Linked DNA regions of Homo sapiens. The protein of the gene in region 1 interacts with the protein of each later gene in a pairwise test. Each region holds a gene or a part of one and is shown on either strand. Other genes may lie near its edges.

Region 1 (7,639 bases):
GTTGTTGCCACAGGGTAGGAATCTCATTTCTACTTTATTTTGTTTATAAAAATGAATAAATTTCATTTAGAGTTTCTTTATTTTAATGAAAATAGAGGCATTGTAGAATAACGGTTTAGACACAGGCCTTGATATAACCATGTGAGGGTGATGGCCTTTCCCAGCCGTGGTTCCTCACCTGTAAAGGGTGAGGACAGGAGCACCTGCCTCAGGGTGAGAAAGCATGGTCCTCAGTAGATGGTAGTGGTTGCCCTCAGGTTCACAGCTTACCTCTCCCAATTTAGATGAGGGAACTGTGGCCCAAAGAGTCAACATGGGGTTTTCTGGCAAAATCTCTCTTGTTTTAGTGGGTACTGTATTGATACTGATTCCTCGGGTGGGTAAGTCCTTCTTCTCCACATGATGAAAATAAGTAACTTTAATTTTATACACTGTCAGTTACTTTAACCATTTTAAAAGTTAAAAAGTGTCAGTACAGCCAAACAAAAAATCAGCAAAACTACAGGTTGGGAAGAAATATTTTCCAAACCATATGTGTAATAATATCTTACTATCTAAAATAGCAAAAAAAAAACCCTACTAAAAACAACCTACTAAACCCTACTAAAAAACAACCCTACTAAAAATGGGCAAAGGACTTGAATAGATATTTTTCTAGAGAAGACATACAAATGGCCAATTGATGTATGAAAAAATGCTCAACGTCACTAAGCACCAGAGAAATGCAAATTAAAACCCCAATGAGATATCATCTCATCTCGCTCCAGTTAGAATGACTGTTACCAAGAGGACAAAAGAGCAAGTGTTGGTGAGGATGTGGAGAAAAGGGAACCCTGTGTGCTGTTGGTGGGAATGTAAATTAGTACAACTATTACGGAAAACTCTGGAGGTTCCTCAAAATTCATAGGACTACTATGTGCTCCAGCAACCCCATTTCTGGGTGTATATCCAAAGGGCATGAAATCAGAAGCTCAAAGAGACACCTGGACCCTATGTTCATTGCAGCATTATTCACAATACCCGAGATATGGAAACAACCTAAATATGTGTTGGTGTTTAATGACAATGTGGTGTGTATACACAACTGAATATTATTCGGCTATGAAAATGAAGGAAATCCTGTCATGTGTGACAACGTGGATGAACCCAAAGTCATTATGTTAAGTGAAACGAGCCAGGCACAGAAAGACAGATACTGCATGTCACTCATGTGGAATCTAAAACAGTCACAACTCACAGAAACAGAGTAGGACAGTGGTTGCCAGGGGCTGGGGGAATGCAGACTGTGGCGATGCTGATTAAAGGTGTAACTTCCCGTTACAAGGTGAAGTTCTGAAGGTCTAATATACAACATGGTGGCTATAGTTAACATTATACAGCATGGTGGCCAGAGTTAACATTATACAGCATGGTGGCTATAGTTAACATTATACAGCATGGTGGTTAGAGTTAACATTATACAGCATGGTGGCTAGAGTTAACATTATACAGCATGGTGGCTAGAGTTAACATTATACAGCATGCTGGCTATCGTTAACATTATACAGCATGGTGGCCAGAGTTAACATTATACAGCATGGTGGCCAGAGTTAACATTATACAGCACGGTGGCTAGAGTTAATATACAGCATGGTGGCTATCGTTAATATTATACAGCATGGTGGCTAGAGTTAACATTATACAGCATGGTGGCTAGAGTTAATATTATACAGCATGGTGGCTATCGTTAATATTATAACTTGAAATTTGCGAAGATAGTAGACGTTAGGCGTCTGTATCTCCAAAAAAAGGATAATTGTATGAGGTGATAGATGTGTATTAACTTGATTGTGTCATCATTTCACAAAATAAATCATCACGCTGTACACCATAAATATATAGTTTTTTTTTTAAATTCATCAATCATACCTCAGTAAATCTGGGGGAGAAAAAAATCCATAAAAATTTTAAAATTTTCATTATAAAAGTAGTATATGCTTATTGGGGAAACCTTTTGAACAGCACAAAGCTAAAATACAAATAGGGCCAGGTGTGCAGTGGCTCACGCCTGTAATCCCGGCACTTTGGGAGGCCAAAGTGGGAGGATCACTTGAGGTCAGGAGTTCGAGACCAGCCTGGCCAACATGGTGAAACCCCATCTCTACTAAAAATACAAAAATTAACTGGGCGTGGTGGTGCACACTGTAATCCCAGCTACTCGGGAGGCTGAGGCGGAAGAATCACTTGAACCTGGGAGCCGGAGGTTGCTGTGAGCCGAGATCGCACCACTCTACTCCAGCCTGGTCAACAGAGTTAGATCCTATCTCAAAATAAATAAATAAAATACAAATGGAAGTCCTTTCTTTGATCCCAGGCTTCTATCCTACCTGTGCAGGGTAGCAGCACCAGTGGCGCGGCCCCTAGTGATATGTGTGGGGTGTGCGTGAGTAGGGGGTTGTGTGTGCACAGCACTGAGAAGACGGTGCTGGGGGCTGCCGTGTCCATTCTGTGATCTCACCAGATAGGAGGTCCAGATGTGGGCCGCTGTGTGCAGTCACTGCTCTCTATTGTTTCCAGAGGCTACGGGCGCACCTACTTCAGCTGCACGTCTGCCCACACCAGCACTGGCGACGGCACGGCCATGATCACCAGGGCAGGCCTTCCTTGCCAGGACCTAGAGTTTGTTCAGTTCCACCCTACAGGTAGGGCAGGACGCCTTGCCCGGCAGGTGTTTGGCTTGTGTGTGTCTTGTAAGCATGTGATGCCTACTCATTGCTCTTCCATAGTTTTATGTAATAACATGGTTTTGAAGATCAGCTTCCTCAGCTCTCAGGTCCTAACTTCAACGTCATTTACCTAAGGAGACTTTTCCCACACTCCCCTTCCCCTAAGGCAGTTTGGGCCACCGTCTTATGTATTTCTCAAGAGCGCTAAACCCTGCCTTGGTGATACTTAAGCCAGCAGTAAAGCAGGGATTGAGGCCGAGCACAGTGGCTCACTCCTGTAGTCCCAGCACTTTAGGAGGCCAAGGCGGGCGGATCACCTGAGGTCAGGAGTTCGAGACCAGCCTGACCAACATGGTGACACCTCGTCTCTACTAAAAATACAAAAATCAGCTGGGCGTGATGGCGTGTACCTGTAATCCCAGGTACTTGGGAGGCTGAGGTGGGAGGAATGCTTGAACCTGGGAGGCAGAGGTTGCAGTGAGCCGAGATCGCGCCACTGCACTCCAGCCTGGGCAACAGAGTAAGACTCCGTCTCAAAAAAAAAAAAAAAAAAAGTAAAGCAGGGATTGTTCAGTGTCCCTCTTCGCAACGAGGTCGTCAGCTCCTCGGGCAGGCAGGTCTTCTCGTTAGCTGTGGTGCTCCATGCCCAGCACATGGTAGGGTCTCCACCGGGGTTTACTGAGTGAACATTCTGAGAGCTGGGAGAATGCCATGGAACCGAGAAGCAGCACAGGCAGACTTCAGCTTTGTAGGAGAACACGGAGCTTCTGTGACAATGGGATGTAAAGTTAGGACGCAGCCGTGACAGAACCCCATGTGACATTGGGCGCTGGGCTCAGCCCACGTGACCACTGAGAGAGCTTGTCGTGGGGAAGATGAGCTCGTCTTGGGGACGTCTGACGGTTGAGGTTACGAATGTGCAATTCGGAGACATTAACTCAGAAATGACAGTTGAAGTCTTGAGTTTGGAGGAGGTTCTTCAGAATGAGTCAGAGACAGACACACACCTGCCTCTTGTTTGAGGTGACTTGTCCTATACTTTTCTGGGTTGCTTTTCTGACCTGTGGACGATGGAGACCTCTGAAGTGGTGCCAAAGAACCAGACCTGTGTCTTCTCTTTCTCTGTCAGTGTCAGCTTTCTGATCCCTGGAAGGGATGAAAATAAGAAATGAATTTGTTGTAGTGTTTTTTTTTTATTTGTTTCGAGATGGGGTCTTGCTCTGTTGCTCAGGCTGGAGTGCAGTGGAGCAATCTTGACTCACTGCAGCCTTTGTCTCCCAGGCTCAAACGATCCTTCCACCTCAGCCTCCCAAACAGCTGGGACTACAGGCATGTGTTACCATGCCCAGCTAATTTTCGAGGGTTTTTTCGTTTTTGGTAGAGACGGGATGTCACCGTTTTGCCCAGGCTGGTCTCAAACTCCAGGGCTTAGGCCATCCTCCTGCCTCGGCCCCTCAGGGTCCTGGGATTATAGCCATGAGCCACTGCACCCGGCCTGTTGTATTTTTTATTACTGTTTTTAATGAATAAAATGTCACTGAGCCCCTGAATTCCCTCTGTAATTTGCTTAGAGCTCCACTGCTCATGCTTTGTCTTCAGTATGTGAGAAGTAACCACAGAAAAAAGAGCATTGAAACTTAGAAAATCAAAAGACAGACAAGAATCACATTCGTTTTTTAAAAGCAAGATTGCCCTTTTTGTATACTAATAAAAATTGTAGCTTTCGAAATACATTTAGTTTAGGGTTTTTGATCTCCTTTGTTAAAATTCGAGAGCTTGGCATGCCCTGTTTCTCATCGCACTGAGGAGTCACAGAGCCGCTGTTTGGAGCACAGACCGCCGGACTACCCAGGTTTGGGTTTGAGCTCTGTCCTCAGCTGCATGACTGGATGTTACCAAGTGTTAATTTGCTTGTCACTGAGAAAGGGGGTCGTACTACCCAGAGTTGTTGTAAGACTTAAACGAGTTAATATGTGGAAAGCAGCTAGAACTGCCCATAGCAAGTGCAGTGTAAATATTATCTAAAATAATCATTATTACTGTCCTTGTCACTGTTTGGATAATTTAGATATGAATACTTCAAGCTAGTATTCTTAACTAGTCACCACAGTATCATAGTGCAAAAGAATGTTCAAAAATTAAAACAAAATTTGAGGCATCCAACGTACACTGGGCTGTAATCAGAGTATTGGCCAGAGGTCTGTGGGCCGGCCTTTCTCCTCTCTGGGGACACCGCTCTGCCCCAGCCTCTGCTGCAGCTGTCAGCCTTGTCAGTGCTTTTTGTTATCCAGACTTTCTACTGTATCTTAACTGTCTTGCTGTGCAGTTTTGCACATAATGCCTTCTGCTTATCTTTTTCCTCTTTCCCCCAAAAAATGTCTTGAAAAAAATAATGCATTTGAAATAGAGATCTAGCAATTGTTAGGTAATAAATATGTGTGGTTTTTTGCAGGCATATATGGTGCTGGTTGTCTCATTACGGAAGGATGTCGTGGAGAGGGAGGCATTCTCATTAACAGTCAAGGCGAAAGGTTTATGGAGCGATACGCCCCTGTCGCGAAGGACCTGGCGTCTAGAGATGTGGTGTCTCGGTCCATGACTCTGGAGATCCGAGAAGGAAGGTGCGTGTGATTTACCACCAGCACTGTCTGAGCGGGCACACGGGCCGGGGTTGCTTCTGTGAGTTTCAGCACCGCTCGCCCTCACCTTCGTGTGCAGGCGCATGTGCACAGCCACCTCTCTTAGCTGCTGGCAGGCGTCTGTTAGTCTGCGATATTTTCCTAAAGACCTACATTTTGAAAATTTTAGCCAGTTTCTTTCTCAAATCTGTGGAACAGAGTTTCTCTTAGTGTGTGTGAGTATGTGACGGAGTATGGGAGAGAGAGACACACACCCAACCTGAAGTCGGCATGTGAGCCTTGGGTGTTGTGTCTGATACCCACAGATGTTTTTTGGCAGCTTTCAAAGTGTGTGGGTTATTTGGCTTTCAGTAAAACAGTTTGCAGCTCTTTCATTGCCTGACCCTGTTCTTTAATGTAATGACATTTGCTAAATATCTGCTGGTATGGCCTTTAGAGGTTTTACATTTTTATATTAAAAAAACAGAGAAGTCAGGTGGGGCGCAGTGGCTCACGCCTGTAATCCCAGCACTTTGGGAGGCTGAAGCGGGCAGATCAGGAGGTCAGGAGATCGAGACCATCCTGGCTAACACGGTGAAACCCCGTCTCTACTAAAAATACAAAAAATTAGCCGGGCGTGATGGCAGGTGCCTGTAGTCCCAGCTACTCGGGAGGCTGAGGCAGGAGAATGGCGTGAACCTGGGAGGCGGAGCTTGCAGTGAGCTGAGATCACACCACTGCACTCCAGCCTGGGCGACAGAGCAACACTCTGTCTCAAAAAAAAAAAAAAAAAAAAAAAAAACAGAGAAGTCAAATGGTTTTTTGGAATATGGTGGCCCTCCGTACCCATTGGTTCCACATGTGTGGTTTCAGCCAACTATGTATTGAAAATAAAATTGCATCCTTACAAATATGCAGACTTTTTTTCCTTGTCATTGTTCCCTTAACAATACAGTGTAACAGCTATTTACGTAGCATTTACATTGTATTAGGTACTATGAGTCATCCTGGAGTTGCTGTAAAACTTAAACGTAAAACTTGAAATGAGGATGATTTAAAGTATAGAGGAGGATGTGCATAGGTTATATGCAAATACTCTCCCATTTTATATTAGGGACTTGAGCATCCACGGATTTTGGTATCCGTGGGGGTCCTGGACCCAACCTGCCACGGATACGCAGGGACGACTGTATTTGGCATAGAGGCCTTTCTAATGCACTTACCAAGGACACCTGCAGCAGGCTGTGATCCCTGAGACGAGCGTGAGTTTAGTGAGGGCAGAGTTTTTGTTCTGGTTCTCAGCTGTGTCCCAGCACCTGGGATTGTCCCTGGCACACAGTAGCTGCTTAGAAAAGATTTGATGAGAGGGTGACCATACATGAGGGGAAATTTTCCTCAGTATCAAAACATGTTGAAACTCACACACTTCCAAGATGACGTATTCTCAGGTCTCCTGCCGTTGCCGTTCTCTGCCGTATGTGATGGTGTTCTGTCTTACCAGAGGCTGTGGCCCTGAGAAAGATCACGTCTACCTGCAGCTGCACCACCTACCTCCAGAGCAGCTGGCCACGCGCCTGCCTGGCATTTCAGAGACAGCCATGATCTTCGCTGGCGTGGACGTCACGAAGGAGCCGATCCCTGTCCTCCCCACCGTGCATTATAACATGGGCGGCATTCCCACCAACTACAAGGGGCAGGTGATGGTGCTGGCTCCTCCCCCACAGCTGGAAAGAAGGCTGGGACGACGGGGCCCACCTCGCAGTTGTCTCTTTAGATCTTACAGGAAAAGATAGATGTTTCCTTCAAGAAAGTACTGTATTGTTTTCTAGATTGCACTTTAAATTTCTATTACCGGAGGATGGAGGGGGCTTAATAATTTATTCCTCCTTAGTAAATTGTCAGAGATACATCATTTGCAGCTTTTTCCATTTTGTAATTACTTTCCTATATGATCTTGTGTTATTTCTAATGATCTTACACATCAAGGGATCTTTATAATTCATTCCTTTGAGTGGTTTGTGGTTCACACAGAGCTTGTCAGTCACTTAGGCTCCTTGTTGGGCGAGGTGGGTGGAAGCTGTTGCTCTCCCTGCGTAGACGAAGAGGTGAACGGGGTAGAACAGTCTGGAACATCAGTCTCCCCTGCTGATGTTCCTCCACCTGCCGTGCTCCTGGGTCTGAGCCGGAGCACAGGTGGTGAGGGCCCCGGGAACATGGGACACGGGGGACAGTCGCAGATGCTGACATTGGAGGTCCTCTGACCTGCTTGTAACAGCAGGTGCTCAGGGGCAGAGGGGAAACTGGGGGATACCTTCG
Region 2 (7,639 bases), on another chromosome or scaffold:
TTGGCGAAGCACCTGGCAGATTCCTACCCACCATGTAACACAGAGGTCATGTCTCAGAACTGTCACATCTATTTGCCACAGCTTTCCCAAACAGAGACTTCTATTAAATTTCCAGCAGTAAGGCAGTGTGTTCTAGTAGAAAGTTCAAGAGCTTTGGAGGCAGACTGAGCTATACTAAATTCTGCTTTTTCGACTCAATAGCTACCTGACCTTGGACAAATTACTTCCTCTCTCTGAGCCCACTTTCTTATGTATAAAATACAGGTAACACCACTAGTCTAGAGTGCTGTGAGGCTTAACTGTGATTACGTAAAGGCTAGATCTCTTCCCTTCCCTCCTGAGCCACCAGGGATACTGAAGAGCAGGCAGGAACCATGAGGTGGCTCTGTAGGAACCCTGGAGCTCAACAATGCTGGAAACATGTGCGTGTGTAGTCCCTGTGTGCGGCTCCTATAATCACCAACCACCTGCTCATCAAATCTGGCCGACCTTCTTCTAGTCAACACCTTTAGATGCACCTGGTCCAGTCTGGGTGACTGATTCTACTGCCTAGATTACAGCTCTGAGGGCAAAACCCCTCCAGGGAGGGCACCACTAGCAACACAGAAGTCACACAGCCCTAGAGCTTTTAAAAACACTTCTAACTAATTCATTCTAATATATTATTTCTTATGTATTATTATTTAGTCAACTAATTGTGAAGACTGTAGGAATGAGGGGGAAAGTTTTCTATAGTGCTACATGAAAATAAAACCTGTAATTGTGAACTTGTAAAACTCTATAAACATGACTATGGGTTATATGAAAATAGACAAAATTAAAATTAATTGTGAGGGCTGGGAAATTGTAAATTTCCTTTTTTCAGTATGCTTTAATAATTCTCTTTCAAATTACAAAGTGCACGTTTTAAAGAAAGCCCAATGATGAAGATGTTGACTCCTAAGCAGTGTGCCCACACCACTCCTGCCTGTGGCCCTCATTCTGCCTGCTGTGCCTTTGAAGGATTCAGCTCAGGAGGCTGGGATCAGCTTCCCTTCGCAGAAGGAGCCATACCAGGTTGGAAGTGGGGAGTTCCACTTCAACAAAGCCCTGGGCCACTGAGGGCGGGGAGCTGCAGGGAGGGCGGGAGGCTTTCCATACAGCACGCACAGCTGGCTGCCTCTTTTCTTTGAGTACACTTGGGCTGAGGCAATGAGCAAGCACAACTGCTTCGCCTGCAGTGCCCTCTCGTGGCAGACTTGCCTCTAGAGATAGCAGCCAGGCAAAGCCTGCATGCCAGCGCTGCTGACAAATCACTTTTGAGGCTCAGAGCTGAACAAAAAAGTATGAGAATGAGTCACATTGTGCATTTACATGTATGTCCTAGGAGAGGGTTATGTCCATCACTTGAGGCAGGACCAGTGGTCTGGGGTAGGGCAGCTGGGCATCTAAGAAGCCGGAAGCAAGGCTAACGTCCATCATAAGTAGTTACCATCCACAGACTGAACCCCCATGCCAGGCCGTGGAGCACAGCTCAACGTGGCTTTTCAAAGAGGTACTCAAGATCTGGGGCACGCAGTCTCTGCTCTTTGTTTTTGTTTTTAGCAAAGTCTCTCAGCAGGGCCATGACTTCATTTTCAAATATTTCTGGGGCTGGTTTAGCTTCTGCAAGAGAAGAGTGGGCAGAAAAAATTATGCCATAGTCAGTCAATGCTCAGGTATGAGAATCTTAAAACTCGAAACACTGGCCAAGAACCACAGATGGATATATAGACTGTCTCCATCCTTCTTCTAAATATACACGATGTTAGCCTATACCAGGGGGTGGCAAACTGTGTGAGCCTATATTTGCAAGTCGTTTTATTGGAACAGCTGCTCCCAATGGTTTACATATTACCCATGCTCCTTTTGTGTTATGACAGCAGAATTGGGTACTTGCAACAGAGACCATATGACTACAAGTAAAATACTTACTATCTGGTCCTTTATGAACAAGTTTGCTGACCCCTGGCCCGCACAATCTTGGCTGTACTATTTTGCTTTGCATTTGGCAATTCCATTGTTCCCCAGACATTGTGTTTTCCCTTGCAATGTATATATCTCTTGAAACAAAAGCTCTCTCCTTTGTCTATCAGTTAGAGGTCCTCAGTTTTAAGAGACAGAAACTAATAACTCTAGTAAACTTAAGCAAAAAGGAATTTATTGGAAGGATATTGGAGGCACACAGAACTGTCATGAGCCTAAAGAACCAGATTTCAGTGAACGGGCAACATAGGCACTGAGTCAGAAGAATGAGAAGGCCAGCCTCAGTCTACGGCAGTGGGTCTGGCAGTGTGCTGCTCCCCCTGACCTTTCTCTACACCCTTGGGACACTTATTTAAGATGCCAATTACAAGCAAAGCCTCCCACTGCCAAAGCCGAGGCAATGTGCTCCAGAATTACCCTTCCACCAACACTAGGTACGACGCCAGGAGAGAGAATTCCTCAAAACCAAGTCAGATTCTCCCTTACTCAGCACAGGGCCTGGCATCTAGTGAGGGCTCTGTTTTCATGTGACAATCAACATAAGATCAAAGAGGTTTTGGCTTCCCCCAAGAAAGTAGAAAGTTGGAAAGAATATTGCACTCACTGTAACAACAAGAAAAAGCCAGATAAATTACAAATATTATGACTTTTCTCAAAGATATCAGAGAACTGAGGTCACGAGGCAACCCAACAGACGAAACCTAAGGAAAAAGAGGCCCTTCAAAGGAGAAACGAGAGCCATGCACTTGCTCACCTGTGGCAGGCACAGGAAGAAGAGACACTGGACATCATACAAATGGGTAAAAGGAATTCAGCTAAAAAAATTTTTTTTTTTGTTTGAGACGAGTCTCACTCTGTCGCCCAGGCTGGAGTGCAGTGGTGCGATCTGGACTCACTGCAAGCTCCACCTCCTGGGCTCACGCCATTCTCCCGCCTCAGCCTCCCGAGTAGCTGGCACCACAGGCGCCCGCCACCACGCTCGGCTGATTTTTTGTAATTTTTTTTTTTTTAGTAGAGATGGGGTTTCACTGTGTTAGTCAGGCTGGTCTTGGTCTCCTGACCTTGTGATCCGCCCACCTCTGCCTCCCAAAGTGCTGGGATCACAGGCGTGAGCCACCACGCCCAGCCAAAAAAATTTGTTTTAAATTAATACAGACAGGGCCAGCCTTATGTTGCCCAGGGGAGACTGCAGTGGCTAGTCAGAGGTGCAATTCCACCACTGATCAGCACAGGAATTTCGACCTGTCCCATTTCCAGCGTGGGCTGGTTCACCCCTCCTTAGGGAATCGGGTGGTCCCCTGCTTCTGAGAGGTCAACATACTGTTGCCAACTTTACAGCAGACACCTGATTGGTATAGAGCACTGCAGCCAAGAATTCCTGGGCTCCAGCGATCCTGCTGCCTCAGCCTCCAGGGCAGCTGGGACTGCAGGCCTGTGCCACTAAAATTTGCAATGAATTGTTAAAAGCCAAGTGTGGGCTAGCATGAGTGTATAAAACCACAGACACAGGCTGGGCACAGTGGCTCACGCCTGTAATCCCAGCACTTTGGGAGGCCGAGGCGGGTGGATCACGAGGTCAGGAGATCAAGACCATCCTGGCTAAAACGGTGAAACCCCGTCTCTACTGAAAATACAAAAAATTAGCCGGGCGTGGTGGCGGGCGCCTGTAGTCCCAGCTACTCGGGATGCTGAGGCAGCAGAATGGCATGAACCCAAGAGGCAGAGCTTGCAGTGAGCCGATATCGCGCCACTGCCTCCAGTCTGGGTGACAGAGTGAGACTCCGTCTCAAAAAAAAAAAAAATTAGCCAGGTGTGGTGGCACGTGATTGTAGTCTCAGCTACTCAGGAGGCTGAGGCAGGAGAATCGCTTGAACCTGGGAGGTGGAGGTTGCAGTGAGCCGAGAGGGTGCCACTGCACTCCAGCCTGGGCGACAGAGCCAGCTTCCACTCTAAGCACACGTTAACGCTAGACACTAGTAATGCAATGAAGGTAACCAAAGCAAAAACAACCCAAGCTGAGCTTACCTCCCAACTCACTGACTTGATCCCCACACTAACAGTAAAGTAGAAGAAGCATCCCCAATTGTAAGCATAAATACAATTATGAGAAAATTACGAGACATATACACAAAAGAAGAAAAAAACAACACACTGTCAAGGGACAAAGAAATCAACAGAAGCAGACTGAGGGATGACCCAGATGTTAGAACTATCAGACAGGGAATTTAAAATGACTATGACTAATATTAAAGGCGCCAGTGGAAAAAGCAGACAAAATGTATGAACAGATGAGAAATTCTAGCAGAGTTGGAAACTCCAAAAGTCAAATGGAAATGCTAAAAACAAATACAGTAGCAGATATGCAGAATGGTTTCAACAGGCCCATCATGAGATTTGACATCATCAAGGAAAGAATTAGTGGAAGACAGGTCAATAGATATTATCTAATACAAATAACCCAAACTGATGCACAAAGAGAAAAAAGAATAAAAAACACAAAACAGAGAACCCAAAAGCTGTTGGACAGACTGAGCACAGTGGCTCACGCCTGTAATCCCAACACTTTAAGGGACTGAGGCAGACGGATCACTTGAGGCCAGGAGTTCAAGCCCAGCCTGGCCAACATGGTGAAACCCGTCTCTGTGAAAAATACAAAAAAATTAGCCAGGCATGGCGGCACGTGCCTGTGGTCCCAGTTGCTCAGGAGCCTGAGGCACAAGAATCGCTTGGACCCAGGAGGCAGAGGTTGTAGTGAGCCAAGATTGCGCCACTGCTCTCCAGCCTTGGTGACACAGCAAGACTGTCTCAAAAAAACAAAAAACAAAACCCCCACAACAGCTGTTGGACAATATTAAACCATTTAACTAAGTATAACTAGAATCCTAGAAGGAAAAGAGGGAGAAAACAAAGCAGAAGAAATAGCTGAAGGGGTAACAGCTGAGAATTTTTCAACAATAATAAAAGATATGAAAACACAGATCCAAGATGCCCAGAGAACCCAAAAGCACGATAAATATCAAATGCCTACATATATAAATATCAAATAAATACCTATGTATATAATATTGAAACGGCTAGAAACCAAAGACAAAATATTGAAAAGATTCAGAAAGAGAAGACACATAAAAAGGAACAAAGATACAGCAGACCTCGTCACAAACTATGGAAATGAGAAAACAGCACATGGTAACACCGGAGGGAATATGAAGCTGGTGATGCACTGAAGGTAACCAGAGCAAAACCAAAGTCCAAACCCAGCGGAACTCCTGACTACCCGATCTTGTACACTAAGAGCTGGCGGTAGAAGTGTTTCTATTTAACAGAAGAAAAAACATTGTGACCCTCGAATTCTATATCCAGTGAAAGTATCTTCCAAAATGGAAAATCTGGCCAGGCATGGTGGCTCACACCTGTAATCCCAGCACTTTGGGAGGCCGAGGCAGGTGGATTGCTTGAGCTCAGGAGTTTGAGACCAGTCTGGGCAACATGGCAAAACCTCATCTCCACAAAAAATACAACAACAACAAAAATTAGCTGGGCATGGTGCTGCCGGCCTGTAGTCCCAGCTATTCTGGAGGCTGAGGTGGGAGGATCGCTTGAGCCCAGGAGGTGGAGCCTGCACTGAGCCATGACTGCACCACTGCACTCCAGCCTGGGTGACAGAGTGAGATCCTGTCTCAAAAAAAAAAAAAAGGGAGGAGTGGTGGGGGGCGGAATTTGAAGAGACATGTCACCAAATATACATAAAGGGCTGATAAGCCCTTGAAAAGATCCTCAATATTATTAGTCATTAGGGACATGCCAATTAAAACTATAGTGATGTACCAATATATACTTCTTGGAATGGCTAAAAACAAAAACAAAACCCTGATAATACAAAGTGTGGGTAAAGATGTGGAACACCAACCCCTCCCTTCACATCCAACACCCTGGCAATCACTGATTTGTCCCTGTAAGTTTTGCCTTTTTCAGATTATCATGTAAACAGAATCACATTCTTGGAGTCCAATTATGTACTGAGTATGTACTTGTTGAGTCTGATCTTTTTTTTTTTTTTTTTGAGATGGAGCCTCGCTCTGTCACCCAGGCTGGAGTATAGTGGCATGATCTCGGCTTACTGCAACCTCCGACTCCCTGGTTTAAGAGATTCTCCTGCCCCAGCCTCCCAAGTAGCTGAGATTACAGGCGCCCACCACCACGCCCAGTATTTTTAGTAGAGACGGGGTTTCACCATGTTGGCCAAGATGGTCTCAATCTCCTGACCTCGTGATCCGCCCACCTCAGCCTACCAAAGTGCTGGGATTACAGGCGTGAGCCACCGCGTCTGGTTGAGTTTGACCTCTTTTGCTTAGCACAGAAGCTGGCAAACTATGCCCTGTGAGCTAAGAATGATTTTTAGAGATTGGGTCTCACTCTTGCCCAGGCTGAAATGCAGTGGCGTGATCATAGGTCATTGCAGTCTCTGAACTCCTGGGCTCAAGTGATCCTCCCAAGTAGCTGGGAATACAGTGTGCACCACCAAGCCCAGCTAACTTATTTTTATTTTTGGAGATAGGGGGTCTATGTTGCCCAGGCTGGTCCCAAACTCCTGGCCTCAAGAGATCCTTTGCCTCAGCCTTCCAAAGCGCTGGAATTATAGGTGTGAGCCACTGCATCCAGCCAAGAATGATTTTTTAATGGTTGGGGAAAAAAAATCAAATGTATATTTCATAACTGGTGAAAACAGTATGAAATTCTATTTTCAGTGTCCACAAATAAGGTTTTATTGAAACACAATCATATTCGTTTACCTGCTATCTGTGGCTGCTTTCATGCTACAAAGGTCGAGGTGAGTAGTTATGAGAGGCTGTATGGCCTGCAAAGCCTAAAATATTCATTATCTGTATTTACTATCTATATTTACCTATTATAGAAAAAGCTTACTATCTATATTTACCTATTACAGAAAAAATGTACTAAAAGTTTTATTTATTTATTTTTGAGACAGAGTCTCATTCTGTCACCCAGGCTGGAGTGCAGTGGCCCAATCTTGGCTCACTGCAACCTCCACCTCCCAGGTTTAAGCGATTCTCCTGACTCAGCCTCCCGAGTAGCTGGGACTACAGGAACCCGCCACCACACCCAGCTAATTTTTTGTCGTTTTAGTAGAAACGGGGTTTCACCGTGTTAGCCAGGAAGGTCTCGATCTCCTGGCCTCAGGTGATCCACCCGCCTCGACCTCCCAAAGTGCTGGGATTACAGGTGTTGACTCACCGCGCCCAGCCCTATTTATTTTTTTGAAAGAGTCTCACTCTGTCGCCCAGGTTGGAGCACAGTGGCGTGATCTTGGCTCACTGCAACCTCTGCCTCCCGGATTCAAGAGATTCTCTTGCCTCAGCCTCCAGAGTAGCTGGGCGCACCACCACACGCGGCTAACTTTTGCATTTTTAGTAGAGACGGGGTATTGTCATGCTGGCCAGGCTGGTCTCGAACTCCTGGCCTCAAGTGATCCACCTGCCTCGGCTTCCCAGAGGAGGAGCATGTGATCTCATGCTGAAATTACAGGCATGAGCTACCACACCTGGCCCTATTATAAAGTTAAACATATACACTTACCACATGACCCAGCAAATCCTTCTCCTGAGTATTCACTCAA

What was found. Proteins that work in one complex are often made in the same cells at the same time.
Region 2: the proteins of SDHA (region 1) and SDHAF2 interact in binary tests that used the Homo sapiens proteins (3 or more experiments, as listed by UniProt).

What each region holds. Positions count from the first base shown.
Region 1 is NC_000005.10:228,320-235,958, forward strand, and holds part of SDHA (succinate dehydrogenase [ubiquinone] flavoprotein subunit, mitochondrial), read left to right. Parts: coding exon 1-14; intron 15-2,556; coding exon 2,557-2,681; intron 2,682-5,157; coding exon 5,158-5,326; intron 5,327-6,824; coding exon 6,825-7,020; intron 7,021-7,639. UniProt on the Homo sapiens protein: Flavoprotein (FP) subunit of succinate dehydrogenase (SDH) that is involved in complex II of the mitochondrial electron transport chain and is responsible for transferring electrons from succinate to ubiquinone (coenzyme Q).
Region 2 is NC_000011.10:61,439,946-61,447,584, reverse strand, and holds the end of SDHAF2 (succinate dehydrogenase assembly factor 2, mitochondrial), read right to left. Parts: intron 1,645-7,639; coding exon 1,514-1,644; 3' UTR 852-1,513; downstream 1-851.